Linked DNA regions of Homo sapiens. The protein of the gene in region 4 purifies or fractionates together with the protein of the main gene of each other region. This does not show direct contact. Each region holds a gene or a part of one and is shown on either strand. Other genes may lie near its edges.

Region 1 (3,775 bases), on a different chromosome or scaffold from region 4:
TGGGTGTGGTGGTGCACACCTGTAATCCCAGCTACCCAGGAGGCTGAGGCAGGGGAATCACTTGAACCCAGGAGGCAGAGGTTGCACTGAGCCGAGATCGAGCCACTGCACCACAGCCTGGGCCACAGAGCAAGACTCTGCCTCAAAAAAAAAAAAAAAAAAAAAAAAAAAAAAAATGTGGTTTCTAGGAACCTTAAAACAAACTAGGAGTAATTAGAAACAGAATTAACTGTTTTTTTATTGTTATTTTAAGTAGAAGTAAAAATGCCCAACTAAGAATAAAAGTTACTTAGCTGCAAACAGATACCTGAGCCCAGAAAACAGGTTACACAACACCATGAACACACTATTAAGACATGTGAAGAGCAAAGGTCAAGAACAAGGAAACATACACACGTCAGCAGATTTATTTATTGCACCAATACCAAACAGGAAAAGTCTCTCTGCAGATTAGAAAAGTGATCTACTCAAGTAACATGAAAACCAGTGCAAAGGATGTAATGGAACAGAATCTCAGATTACAAGTAACTTCTTAAAGCCTTGTTCCATTAAACTACATGGATGGCTCATTTAAATGAAATATCCTGGATAGATAAATCCATAGAGTAAGTATATTAGTGGTTGTCAGACTGAAGGAAGGAAAAATGGGGAATGATTGCTAATGGGTACTGGGTTTCTTCTTGGGATGATCACATGTTCTGGAATTAGATAGTGGTGATGTTTACACAACAATGTGACTATACTAAAAACACTTAATGTACAATTTTAAAAGGTCGATTTTATGGTATATCAACTATATCTCAAAAAAGCTATTATAGAAAAATTTTAAAAGCAAATTTTAAAAAGCTTATATGGCATTTAATATTTAAAACTGATTTACATGAGTAATTACACAAAACCATTTACTTTTTTTTTTGAGACAGAGTCTCGCCTGTCGCCCAGGATGGAGTGCACTGGCGCGATCTCCTCTCACTGTAAGCTCCACCTCCCAGGTTCACGCCATTCTCCTGCCTCAGCCTCCCGAGTAGCTGGGACTACAGGAGCCTGCCACCACGCCTGGCTAATTTTTTATATTTTTAGTAGCGACGGGGTTTCACCATGTTAGCCAGGATGGTCTCGATCTCCTGACCTCGTAATCCGCCCTCCTTGGCCTCCCAAAGTGTTGGGATTACAGGCGTGAGCCACCGCGCCCCGCCACTTTTTATTTTTTTGACAGAGTCTCCCTCTCACCCAGGGAGCGCCGTCTCTGCTCACTGCAACCTCAATCTCGGGGACTCAAGCAATCCTCCCACCTCAACCTCCTGAGTACCTGGGGGCTACAGGCATAGGCCACTATGCCTGGCTCATTTACTTTTTAAAACCGGCCGGGCGTGGTGGCTCACGCCTGTAATCCCAGCACTTTGGGAGGCCGAGGCGGGCGGATCACGAGGTCAGGAGATCGAGACCATCCTGACTAACACGGTGAAACCCCGTCTCTACCAAAAATACAGAAAAATTAGCCGGGCGTGGTAGTGGACGCCTGTAGTCCCAGCTGCTCGGGAGGCTGAGGCAGGAGAATGGCGTGAAACCAGGAGGCAGAGCTTGCAGTGAGCCGAGATTGCGCCACTGCACTCCAGCCTGGGCGACAGAGCGAGACTCCATCCCAAAAAATAAATAAATAAATAAATAAATAAATAAATAAATAAATAAAACCACACATTAAGGGCCGGGAGCAGTGGCTCACGCCTGTAATCCCAGCACTTTGGGAGGCCGAGGCGGGCAGATCACCTGAGTTCGGGAGTTCGAGACCAGCCTGACCAACATGGAGAAACCCCATCTCTACTAAAAATACAAAATTAGCCGGGCATGGTGGTGCATGCCTATAATCCCAGCTACTCAGGAGGCTGAGGCAGGAGAATCGCTCAAACCTGGGAGGCAGAGGTTGCAGTGAGCCGAGATCGTGCCACTGCACTGCACTCCAGCCGGGGTGACAGAGCAAGACTCCGTCTCAAAAAAAAAAGAAAAAAAATACATATTTAGTTTGTGACCAGCCTTGGCAACGTGGAAAAACCCCATTTCTATAAAAAATACAAAAATTAGCCAGATGTGATAGCATGCACTTGGTGACAGTGAGACCCTGCCTCAAAAAAATAAAATAAAAATAAAAAATACACATTAGTTCTCAGGGGTCCTGTAAAAAAAAAAAATACACATAAGATGACAAAATACAAATACCCAAAAAGTACTATTGGGAGAAAATAAGGGACCTAATAGTCTAAAGAGGCAAATATGACATCAGAGTATGATTGTAGAATCAATGCACTAATAACTTTGGGATGCAAAGCATGGTAATGCTATGGTGAAATGGGTGTAGTAACTGTCCTAGAATACAAATATCCAGGCTGAGCACAGTGGCTCATGTCTGTAATCCCTGCAGTTTGGGAGGCGAAGGCAGGAGGATCACCTGAGACCAGGAGTTAAAGACCAGCCTGAGCAACATAACAAGATCCCATCTCTAAAAAAAAAATTTTTTTTTTTTGAGACTAAGTCTCACTCTGTCGCCCAGGCTGGAGTGCAGTGGCACAATCTTGGCTCACTGCAACCTCCACCTCCTGGGTTCAAGCAATTCTCTGCCTCAGCCTCCCAAGTAGCAGGGATTACAGGCACCCACCACCAAGCCCAGCTAATTTTTTTGTATTTCTAGTAGGGACAGGGTTTCACCATCTTAGCCAGGCTGGTCTTGAACTCCTGACCTCGAGATCCACTCGCCTCGGTGTCCCAAAGTGCTGGGATTACAGATGTGAGCCACCATGCCCGGTACAAAAAATTTTTTAAATTACCTGGGTATGGTAGCAAGAAACTGTAGTCCCAGCTACTCAGGAGGCTGAGGCTGGAGGATTGCTTGAGCCCAAGAATTCAAGCAGTGAGCTATGATCACACCACTGCATTCCAACCTGGGCAACATAGTGAGACCCTGTCTTTAAAAAAAAAAAAAAAAGAAGGATGAACTGGGCATGATGGCTCATACCTGTAATCCCAGCACTTTGGGAGGCCAAGGTGGGGGGATCACTTGAACCCAGGAGTTTCAGACCAACCTGGGAAACATGGGAAGTCCCCATCTCTACAAAAAAAATACAAAAATAGGCCAGGTGCAGTGGCTCATGCCTGTAATCCCAGCACTTTGGGAGGCCGAGGTGGGGGGATCACTTGAACCCAGGAGTTTGAGACCAGACTGGGCAACATGGGAAGACCCCGTCTCTACAAAAGAAAAAATACAAAAATAGGCCAGGCACGGTGGCTCACCCCTGTAATCCCAGCACTTTGGGAGGCCGAGGCGGGCAGATCACGAGGTCAGGAGTTCAAGACCAGCCTGACTAACATGGTAAAACACCTTCTCTACTAAAAATACAAAAATTAGCTGGGCATGGTGGCGTGCACCTGTAATCCCAGCTACTCAGGAGGCTGAGGCAGGAGAATCGCTTGAACCTGGGAGGCAGAGGTTGCAGTGAGCCAAGATCGCGCCACTGCACTCCAGCCTGGGCGACAGAGCAAGACTCCATCTCAAAAAAACAAACAAACAAACAAACAAACAAAAAAAAACAATTAGCTGGGTGTGGTGGTAGGCACCTGTAGTTCCATCTACTCAGGAAGCTGAGGTATGAGAATTGCTTGAACCCGGGAGACGGAGGTTGCAGTGAGCCAAGATCGTGGCACTGCACTCCAGCCTAGGCAACAGGGCAACATTCTGTCTCAAAAAAAAAAAAAAGAAAAAAAAGAAAAAGAAAACGAAGGATAA
Region 2 (3,775 bases), on a different chromosome or scaffold from region 4:
AAATACGGTATTCACAAAATATGAAACTCCTGGAGACGGATACAGAGGGCTGACTTCATATCCATGGGTTCCACAGGGCCACTGCAGGACTTGAGAATGCATGGGGTTTGGTATTCAAGGGCAATCCCTGAAACCAATCCCCCAAGGATACTTAGGGACGACTGTATTTTGGATCCGCATTTGGTTGCAGATGAGGAACACACTGATACTGTATTTATTGGAAAAAAAAAACCCTCATTATTAAGTGGGCCCATGCAGTACAAAACTGCATTGTTCAAGAGTCGACTGCACATAAAACAAAAACAAAAAACAAACAAAAAGGAAATAGGGCAAAAACTAATAAATACCATAAAACCTATATTTAATATTTTTCCTAGTCACCAATAATTCATTGTAATACTAGTAAAATAATAGCATATTTTATGCCTATCAAAATAAGAATATAAATAATAAAATCCAGTGCTAGTGAGAATAGGGTAAAATGGACACTCTAACATACTGCTTGTGGGAGCATAAAATGAAAGAACCTTCCCAGAAAGCAATTTGGCAGTACGTATCAAGAGCCTTCATAAAGCTTGTACCCCTTTGGTAGAATAAGTCCATTTTCAGCAATTTCTCATAAGAAAATAGAAATGTACACAGAAATTTTAAGTTCAAATTTTTATTTTTATTTATTTATTTATTTTTGAGACACAGTTTCACACTTGTCACCCAGGCTGGAGTGCAATGGTGCGATCTCGGCTCACTGCAACCTCCACCTCCCAGGTTCAAGCCTCATCAGCTGCCCGAGTAGCTGGGATTACAGGCATCCGCCACCACGCCCAGCTAATTTTTGTATTTTTAGCAGAGACGGGGTTTTGCCATGTTAGCCAGGCTGGTCTCGAACTCCTGACCTCAGGTGAAATGCCCGCCTCAGCCTCCCAAAGTACTGGGATTACAGGCATGAGCCACTGCGCCCGGCCGAAGTTCAAACTTTTAAATTAAATTTTGTATTGTTTGGAAGGCCCAGGCAGGGGAATCATGAGGTCAGGAGTTTGAGACCAGCCTGGCCAACATGGTGAAACCCCATCTCTACCAAAAAATGCAAAAATCCGTGGGTCGTGGTGGTGCACACCTGTAATCCCAGCCAATCACGAGGCTGAGGTGGGGGGATCACTTGAGCTCGGGAGGCGGAGGTTGCAGTGAGCTGAGATCACGCCACTGCACTCCAGCCTGGGTGACAGAGTGAGACCCTGTCTTAAAAAAAAAATCTATTATGGTAAAATATACATAACATACAATTTGCCATTTTAACCATTTTAAGTGTGCAATTCAGTGGCATTAATTACATTCATAATGTGGAACCATCACCATTATCTATTTCCAAAACCCTTTCATTACTCCAAACAGAAACTCTGCACCCATTAAGCAGTAACTCTCCATTTCCCCCTTCCCCATCCCCTAGCAATCTCTAATCTTCTGTCTCTATGAATTTGCCCATTCTAGATATCTCATATAAGCGGAATCACACAATATTTGTCTTTTTGTGTCTTTTTTTTTTTCACATAGCATGTTTTCAAGGTTCATCCACATTGTATCAGTACTGTATTCCTTTTTATGACTGGATAATATTCCACCGTATGTACATACCACATTTTGTTTAACCATTCATCTGTTGATAGACACTTGGGTTGGTTACACCTTTTGGCTACTGTGAATAATGATGCTACGAACACTGGCGTACAAGTAGGTTTTGAGTCCTTGTTGTCAATTCTTTTGGCTATTGTTATGGAATGAACTGTACCCCCACTCCCCAGTTCCATATGTTGAAGCCCTAACCCCCAATGTAGCTGCACTTGGAGGCAGAACCTTTAAGGAGGTAGCTAAAGTTAAATGAGGTCATCTGGATGGGGCCCTAATCCGATGGGACTGGTGTCCTTGTAAGGAGAGGATGAGACACCAGTAGTGTGTGAGCACAGAGAAAAGGTCACGTGAGGACACAGCAAGAAGGCAGCCATCTGCAAGCCAGGGGGAGAGGCCTCACCAGAAACCATCCCTTCTCGCACCTCTATCTTGGACTTCCAGCCTCCAGAATTGTGAGAGAAAAATTCCCATTGTTTGAGCCAGCCAGTCTGAGGTATTTTGTTATGGTAACCCAAGCAGACTAATATAGGTATACACCCAGGAGTGGAATTGCTGGGTCATGTGGTAATTCTATGTTTAACTTTTTGAGGAACCACCAAACTTTTCCACAGCAGCTGCATGATTTTACATTCTCACCAGAAATGTATGAAGGTTCCAATTGTTCCACATCCTTAAGTTTAATAATTATGATTGCAGTGTTACAACAATGAATAAAATAGAAGAATGAATAATGTCTAATGACAGAAGACTGCCTGAATAAACTTGAATAGAACCATATGATGGATTATGCAGTCATTAAAATAATATATTAAAGAAACATTTATTAAAGATGTAGAAAAACGCTCAGGATAGAATGTTAAATGACAAAAGCAGGATTAAAAACTATCATGTTACAGTCCAATTTTGCAGAAACACTAGTAGGAAATATAGCAAAATGGAGAGTGAATTTAGGATTAAGTTTTATTTATACTTTCTGCACTTCCCATATTTTCCACAATGAACATGTGTTATTTTGATGAATAAAAGACTACAAAAGAATAAAATACATCAATTTGGGCCAGGCGTGGTGGCTCACACCAGTAATCCCAGCACTTTGGGAGGCCGAGGCAGGTGGATCACAAGGTCAGGAGATAGAGACCATCCTGGCTAACACGGTGAAATCCCGTCTCTACTAAAAATACAAAAAAATTAGCCAGGCGTGGTGGCGGGAGCCTGTAGTCCCAGCTACTCGGGAGGCTGAGGCAGAAGAATGGCGTGAACCCAGGAGGCGGAGCTTGCAGTGAGCTGAGATCGCGCCACTGCACTCCAGACTGGGAGAGAGAGACAGCCTCCGTCTCAAAAAAAAAAAAAAAAAAAAAAAAAGAATAAAATATATCAATTTGAAAGAAAAGTGAGCTGTGTACTGGTGAAAAAATAAGGCTGTAAAAATGGTCTATCTCCTGCTGAGGAAGCTACATCTTTTCAGGAAAGGGAAGAAAGGTATAGAGAAGAATGGTTATACAGATATATATTTTTTACAGTATTTTAAATCACATTTTTTCTGATAATACAAGTAATACATGCTCATTGTAGAAAACTTGAAAAAAATAAAAGGAAAAATGAAGAAATCACAGTAGTGGAGGATGGCATATGAAAAAATGAAGGAAACAAAATCACTCATAATCCCACAACCTATAGATAATAAACTATAAAAATTGTGGCATATTTCCTGTATTTCCTTGCATATTTCTTTATACATCATTAGATTTTTTAAAAATAGGTAACTGACTTCACACTGTAAATGTAGCCTATCTCCCATTTTGTCATTTAGCTTTCTGGTATGAACTCTTTCCATCAGTCTAATGTACGAATGTCCTATTATTTATTTATTTATTTATTTAGAGACAGAGTCTTACTCTGTCGCCCAGGCTGGAGTGCAGTGGCACAATCTCGGTTCAATGCAGCCTCCACCTCATGGGTTTTTTATTCTCATGCCTCAGCCAGGGTCTCAGCTGGGATTACAGGCACATGTCACCACGTCCAGCTAATTTTTGTATGTTTTAGTAGAGACGAGGTTTCACCATGTTGCTCAGGCCGGTCTCAAACTTCTGGCCTCAAGTGATCTGCCCACCTCGGCCTCCCAAAGTGCTGGGATTACAGGAGTGAGCCACCA
Region 3 (3,775 bases), on a different chromosome or scaffold from region 4:
TGGCAGACACAGGAATCTTTTGTGGCACACTGACAGTTTTTTGGGTAATGGCATGATTGTGTTGTCCTTTAAGAAAACTCATTATATAAAGATCAAAATTTAACTCAAGGAGAGGTATTTTACTTGAAAAAAGTATTATGCACTTTATTAAATAGTCAGCTACAATGAAAAAATACCAAGTTTCTTTAATTCTTTCAAGATAAAAATAGGTTTATAAATTAATTTATTTATAACTTTTAAGAAAATCTTTTAAGAAAAACATAATACTCTGAGGCAAAAAAAATACTGATTTCTCTCTGAATATGTTTTCTCACATTTCATGTGGAATTCTTTTCCAAGAAACAAAGGGAGGAAGAAAATTTCCACATTTATGTATATAACAAATTTATAGGGTGGCATGCATACCATTTCCATTTTAAAAGACTAAGGTGTTCGGAGCGTGATGTGGGCTGATTGAAAAAAAGTAAAAAAAGGCTAAGATGTGATGGGAAAGTACAAAGAGAAGGATGCTGCTTATCTCTTCAAAGTAGGTTGGACTTCTGTCTCTGGCAGTACGTTGGATGAGATCTCCTAAATAATCTTCCTGATGGAAACAACTAAAATACTGAAATGGACATCTAAATTTTTTTGATGTCTTTTGTGTCATTTTCTTCTATGCCAATTCACAATTTTTGTTTTTCCCCTTCCTGTCTCAGTCATTTATAGGAGAAACCAGGCCATTTTTCCTACTGACTGTCCTACATTCTTGCTTTGACTGGTTGCTTCCTCTTATAACTTAACATTTAAATTTTTTCCTTTATCCTTTGTATTTTCAGTAAGCAGGCAGTTTCATGTAGATGGTTAATTAGATGCTCATTCATATATTTTTTTAATAGGACTACTGTGTGTTCAAGTGGCATCAGCCTGATTCCCTCATTATAAAGTTTCCTGTCAAGCTTTCATATAGCAGTTTTAATATCATTTGTTGATCATTGCACAGATCCATTATTTTTTTATTAGGAATCTGCATTTACTCGCTGCAACCCTAAAAAGAAAATCTCTCCTCAAGTATTTGGTCTACTTGAAATGAAATTCATAAAGGAAAGAAAAGCTAAATACTTGAGTCTTTCTTTTACATATAAATTATTACAGTTATGAGTTAGTGTTCCACCAACTTGCAATAATAACCAATAAGTTTTTTTAAAAAAAACCTCATTACCTTTGAATGAATCAAAGATTAAATCACAGTGGAAATTACAAAACATTTAAAAAAACTAAATGATAACAAAAATATCCACATAAAAATAAGAAGGAGTCTGCTAAAGTAGTACTTGGAGGCCAAGTTACATAGCATTAAAAGCTTACATTAGAGAAGATGAAAGGCTAAAATTAATGAGATAAAATTCCAACTTGAGATGTAGAAAAAAAGAGAACAGAGTAAAAAGAAAGAAATGTGAAGGAAGGAAATACAGAAACAGAAAAGAAACATTCAAGAGAAAGAGTTCAACCAAGCCAATAGTTGGTCCTTAGGAAAGATTAATAAAATTAACAAACCTCTGGCAAACAAAGAAAGAAGGCATAAATTAACATTACCAATGAAAAGATAATATAGCTATAGTTGCTGTGAAGCTTAAACAGATATTAGGAAATATAAGTAACTTTATACCCAACATATTGAAAACTTAAAACAGATAAAATCTTAGAAAATGGAACGCATCAAAACTGACTCAGGAAAATCTAAATTGTCACATAATCATTAATCAACTAAATCAGTTTTAAATTTCTCCATAAAGAAGGCACAAGAGCCTGTTTCCAAAGTTTAAGGAATATATAATTCAAATAGTATTGATTCTAGAGAATAGAAAAAGAGGAAATATTCCCTAATACATTCTACGAGGCTAATGTAACTCTTTTATCAAAACCAGACAAGGATAACAAGAAATATAAATTATAGGCCACAAAAATAATAGTCATAACAAAATGTTATCGAACTAAATTCAACACTGTGTTAAAAAGAGAATACATCATGATCAAATTTGATTTCATGCTGGGGTTGCAAGACTGGTCAAATATCAGAAAATGAATTAATGAAATTAACTACATCAACAGATTAAAGAAAATCATATAATCATTTCAGTGACAAGAAAAAGAGTTTACTCTATCACCTGAAATTCATTTCCAGGTGTTTACTTTAGAGAAACTCTTGTATATGTTCCCAGGAGACACACACAAGAATGTACATAGAAACACAGAAGATAATCCACAAAAACTGGAAAACATCCAAAAACACATCAGTAGTAAAATTAATACATACATTATGGTGTATTCTTATCACAGAGAACTACACAACATTGAAAATGAACTACAGCTACACACATCAACTTAGATCAAAAGTAGAAAAATCACCTAAGAGTTCATATAATGTGACTCTAATAAAGGTATCTTGTAGCTTTATAAAACTACAAGACAAACAAAACTAAAACAACATACACTTTAGGAATACATGCATGGAGGCAAAACTCAAAGAACAACAAAGCAATAATTAACACAAAATTCAAGACAGTGGTTACTTGAGGTCAGGGGAGAGGCTGGTTTTGACTGGGGACCCCACAGGGGTGTCTATGGTCCTGGCAATGTTCTACTTCTTAAGTCAGGAGGTGGACACCCAGGTGTTCATTTTATTATTGATCTTTAAACTGTACATAAACATTTTATAACTCTTTTTTAATGTACTCTATATTTCACAAAAATAAATAAAAGTAGAGGTAAGTTGCTGTCTATTTAAGAGAAATGGTATTGAAACAATTTTTGCCAGTAGCTGCTTGCCTGACTGACAGATTTCCCAGCAGGAACTGGATTTGGAAAGCAGCTTTCCTTCTGTCCATTTCCTGATAAATTATTAATGAGGCTTTGAATTACAGAGAAAAGAGGACATAGAGCACATAGAAAATGTTACAGACCTTATTTCTTATCTAACTCTTCCTAATCCAAAAATTGAGTGGTAATAGTTGTATAACATTATGAATGTAATTAATGTCACTTGAATTGTACACTTAATAATGGTTAAAATTGCAAATGTTATGTGTGTTTAACCGCAATAAAATAAAAGAGATGAAGAAAAGTGACAAGTAGAAAATAGAAGGCAGGAACACACATTAGGTGTGAATGGAGTGCCAAGGAGGTAAAGATATCCCAACATCATCTCAGTTTTGAACAAAGTAACTATTAACACATTAACTTAAGTATTGAATATAACAAATAAAAAAAGTCTACAGGTAGTATCAAAGGCAAGCCTAAATGCTTAGTACCTACTTTGAAGATAGGTCAAAACTACTGGGCTTGAGATGCTAGGGAAAGACCTTTGACCAAAAGAAGAGACTCCTAGTGTAAGTTGCACTTTCACACTGAGGAGATTTTAGGGGGTCTTTCTGGCTCAGCTGCTAAAATAAATGGTTGTGAACATAGCTTGGTTAAGCCATATTTCAAATGTTAACAGTACCTGCTTACAATAAGTTATTCATTGCATGGCTATGTTCTGATAAAAAAGAGTTATATTGTAAGGAAGTGTGATTTACACATCTAACTTTTCACAAAAGCCTATTTTGTTAGATAAACAGACTGTTGTTCTGTACTGTCAAAAAGAATGAAAGTGCCATCAACGGGAGACACAAAGAATATTCTAAGGGGAACTTACTAGGCAGATTCAAAGAATGCCTGAGTCTGCTTGGGCACACCCAGAGATAAGAATGCAGCGTAGGCCTTCTTGACTCCTTGTTCTGTGTTCTTAGGGTTCAAT
Region 4 (3,775 bases):
CAAAGTGCTGAGATTACAGGAGTGAGTCACTGCAATATGCCCAAAGATGTCTTTTATAATATTAATAGAAAAAATCGAAACACAAACATTTGAAAATAATTGTTCACTCTAGAGGAATGGCCACTAAGTTTCAATAGCATATTGATTACAGGGAATTTAACTATTAAGTAACAGGGAAATATTTATATAAGATGTTTAAAAAATAAAATGGTATCTAGGCAATAATTTCAACTACATTAAACATTAATTTGTGAATCCTGAAATTGGTAAAGACATCAAAATATTTTAAAATAGAGAGCTGTAACAGAACACCTGTGGTGTTTTCCTCTTTCTATTTTCCCACATTGGCTAACACAAAGAAAGCATTCATTAACTTAATCAACTGTCATTGACTAAACAACAAAAATGTGCCTGATAAATAACTAGGTACTGGGAATGTAAATGCAAGATCTCTGTCCTGGTGTTGCTCATGATTTATCTAGTCAAAAGACAAGTTACTGCAACAATTTAAAACAAGTTACAAAAAAAGAGCCCTACCCATTATAAGATGAAATGAGTCTACCTGAAGAACAAGCCATGTTCTAAACATCTTATAAAATTAATAGTTTGGAATTAGCATTTTTCATAGAAATATTAACAATGAGTTGTCATTTTCAGAAATCTACTTAACCATTCCATAACATACGTGCAATTCTACACATCAGAAATAGGAAATAGTAAAAACAGTAGTTTTAAAGTCTCTTGACTATCTATATTCTCCCAGTGAGAGTTGATTTAGGAAACAAGCTTTCAACTCACCCAGCTGAGACTCATTTACAACTGAATGTACTCAAATGCTAATTTGATGAGACTTTTTTTCAATTTTTAAATTTTGTTTGTAATTGACAAAAACTGTATATATTTATGATGTATTACATGATGTTTTAAAATGTGTATACATTGTGGAGTGGCTAAATTGAGCTAATTACCATGTACAGTACCTCAAATATTTTTTTTGTGCAAGAACGCTTAAAATCTACTCTCCTAGCAATTTTCAAGCATTGACCAATTTTTCATCTCAATCAGGTAATGGAGACTCATATGCAAACATTCATACTCTGCACAAAGAGGGTGCTGAAGCACCGGGTTAGGAAGCACTGGTAAATTTATAAGATTTTTTACAAGACCTAAGTTAGTCTCTTGTACACAATTCTATTAATACTTTGCTGTCTATGAAATTTTCCACAATGCTCACAAGCTGGGGTTACAATGATATCAGAAGCAGGTAAAAACAGGGAGCTTTTCTTTATGGACATGTTCCAATTCTGGCTGAGGATTACATTTACTTTCTAAAACAGGGTGCTGGAAATGATGACAATGAGGGAATGGAACAGTAATACTTCAGACTTTTCTCTTCAAAAGGGGTAAAATCAACTTTTCTCAAAGCACACTTACCAAGACTTAATGCTTCCTACCTTGTCTTTAGAATTCTATCCTATTGTATGGAAGTTAGGGCAGTAAATGATCTACGGTCCATAATACTTCTTAAGGTCTCTGGGCAAACACCCCCTGAGAAAAGGAGTTATTGGGACTTTCATAGCTAGAGAGGAATCAATCTACTTCACTGAGAGATGTGCATGTTCATTTACAAATATATGTGTTCTAAGTAACCGAGAACTTATTTAGACAAAAATACCCTATTTAGATCTATCCTCCTCCTCTGTGATGTTCCCCTCAAAGCAACAAAAATTCTTATTGACTCAGCTATATTATGCCACTGTGTTAAGAGACTTACTTTCCTCCTCTGTGAAGGAAAAGGCATAAAAAATAAATTCGGAGTTTACTGTCTTTATCTACCTTCATAACTGTGTCCAAAGCTATTTATGTTGACGTTTAACCCTGTGTGTGCTGGAAGAGGGTAGTAGGAGCAGGCATAAATAGGGTTATTGCTGATCAAAGAAACACATTCAGGGCACATGCTCTTCTCTCAGAGGATCTGCTTGCTGGGCTCTGACCTCATAGCAGCTAGAGGAGAATGCCATACATGGAAGCACATCTCTCTCCCTTGACTCCTCACCTAATTCTAGCTTTCCTGGGTGAATTGATTTTTTTGTCTTTTTCCCGAACAAAATGGGGTGAATCCAGGGATCTGAAACGGCATCTCTCAAGTCTGAAGCAAGAAAAAAAAGGCAAAAAATTCTAGCCCTCCTTGCAGCCACACTAAAATGTAAATAATTTCTGCCTCTTACCTGGCTGCAGAATAGTAGATGTGTATGTATCTCACTGACTCTCCATTACTGAGACAGCCACTCCATTTACCAGAGCAAAGAGTAATACACATGTATCTCATTAACTCCATTACTAAAACATGTAGATGAGGAAGACAGAATGCTTGATCATCATTCCAAAATTCTAGAGTAGAATGTTATCAAAAAAAAAAAAAAAAAAAAAAACAGCTGACAAAAATAATTTGAAGGCCTTGTAACATTTCTCTGTGTTTTTTGGCTACCTTGAGTTCTTTCACAGTCACTAAACTGGCTATGCTAATATAGAAACATAAATAGAAAAAAAGATGATTCACAATTAAAATGATAGGCCATGGAATTCAAACTATGTAAGAAGATAAATAAGTACATGGACAGCAAAGAGGTCAGTGGACTTGAGGTCCAGGCAAAGAGAAGAACTTTCCAAGTGGTGGTAACCAGAGTGAGTGAGTTAGGATGCGAAGTGAAGGCTAACACATGAGGGGCCTGAAATCAAAATTTAGGAAGGGATAAGCGGGGAAGAGCAATAGAAAAGAGGAAGTCAAGGGATAAAGAAGGTGAATTTAACTAGGAGAATGCCAATTTCAACAAAAAGTGACCACACACATAAGCAACAGTAGAACAAATACAGTAACCCTTCAACAATACACGGGTTAGGGACACCGACCCACCTGCATGCGGTAGAAAATTTGAGTATAACTCTGACTTCCCCAAAACTTAACGACTCACAGCCTATTGTTAACTAGAAGCCTTACTGATAACATAAACAGTCGATAATACATAAACTACTATTTACATGTATTTTATACATTCATTACAGGCCTTTTCTTAATTTTTTTGATATTTCTAGGCTATGCAATTTGTCCCAAGTTTTTTCAAATTGCTGCAGATCTCCAAAATATTTTTCCAATATATTTATTTAAAACAATCTGCATACAAGTAGACCTGTGCAGTTTAAACCCATAATGCTCAAAAAAAATCTACATACACACTTACACACAAAGAACTGTTTTTAGTATTACTAAATGTATATATCAATTAACGAAAATAATTTTATCAAAAGAAATGATGAAATTTTCTTACTCTTTGAGATGTTTCTGCTGCTGCAGCTGCCATTGCAGCAGCTTTAGCCTTCTCAGCTTCATCGTATGTAGGAAGAGAGGTAGCAACGCTATAGGGAGGTGGCACGGGATAAAACTCACCGTAAACTTCTGTATCTGAAGAAAGAATTCAAAAAGAATAACCAATAAAATCTATTTAATTTTGTAGCCATAGCCATGACTTAATAATTTACAACTGGCCACCAATACAGGACTACTATTGCTATTATAGGCCTATGTTATAAGCTATAAAATATATAAATTACTATTACAATCATATATCTTACTTTAGTCCAAATTTATTATAAAGAGAAAGAATGGATAAATACCGTTTAAAGGCTAATACACTAAACAAGAACCTCTAGAATGAAATTCTGAAAAAGAGTGCCAGACAAGAGAAGTAAGAATCTCATAATATATGAGTATTCTCTA

Evidence for each region. Proteins that work in one complex are often made in the same cells at the same time.
Region 1: the proteins of NDFIP2 (region 4) and SAR1B purify together in Homo sapiens (affinity purification with mass spectrometry; one large-scale study listed by BioGRID and IntAct). This does not show direct contact.
Region 2: the proteins of NDFIP2 (region 4) and ZDHHC9 purify together in Homo sapiens (affinity purification with mass spectrometry; one large-scale study listed by BioGRID and IntAct). This does not show direct contact.
Region 3: the proteins of NDFIP2 (region 4) and DDAH1 purify together in Homo sapiens (affinity purification with mass spectrometry; one large-scale study listed by BioGRID and IntAct). This does not show direct contact.

Annotation. Positions count from the first base shown.
Region 1 is NC_000005.10:134,626,155-134,629,929, forward strand, and holds part of SAR1B (small COPII coat GTPase SAR1B), read right to left. Parts: intron 1-3,775. UniProt on the Homo sapiens protein: Small GTPase that cycles between an active GTP-bound and an inactive GDP-bound state and mainly functions in vesicle-mediated endoplasmic reticulum (ER) to Golgi transport.
Region 2 is NC_000023.11:129,816,213-129,819,987, forward strand, and holds part of ZDHHC9 (palmitoyltransferase ZDHHC9), read right to left. Parts: intron 1-3,775. UniProt on the Homo sapiens protein: Palmitoyltransferase that catalyzes the addition of palmitate onto various protein substrates, such as ADRB2, GSDMD, HRAS, NRAS and CGAS. The ZDHHC9-GOLGA7 complex is a palmitoyltransferase specific for HRAS and NRAS.
Region 3 is NC_000001.11:85,353,486-85,357,260, forward strand, and holds part of DDAH1 (N(G),N(G)-dimethylarginine dimethylaminohydrolase 1), read right to left. Parts: intron 1-3,775. UniProt on the Homo sapiens protein: Hydrolyzes N(G),N(G)-dimethyl-L-arginine (ADMA) and N(G)-monomethyl-L-arginine (MMA) which act as inhibitors of NOS. Has therefore a role in the regulation of nitric oxide generation.
Region 4 is NC_000013.11:79,533,008-79,536,782, reverse strand, and holds part of NDFIP2 (NEDD4 family-interacting protein 2), read right to left. Parts: intron 3,461-3,775; coding exon 3,327-3,460; intron 1-3,326. UniProt on the Homo sapiens protein: Activates HECT domain-containing E3 ubiquitin-protein ligases, including ITCH, NEDD4, NEDD4L, SMURF2, WWP1 and WWP2, and consequently modulates the stability of their targets. As a result, may control many cellular processes.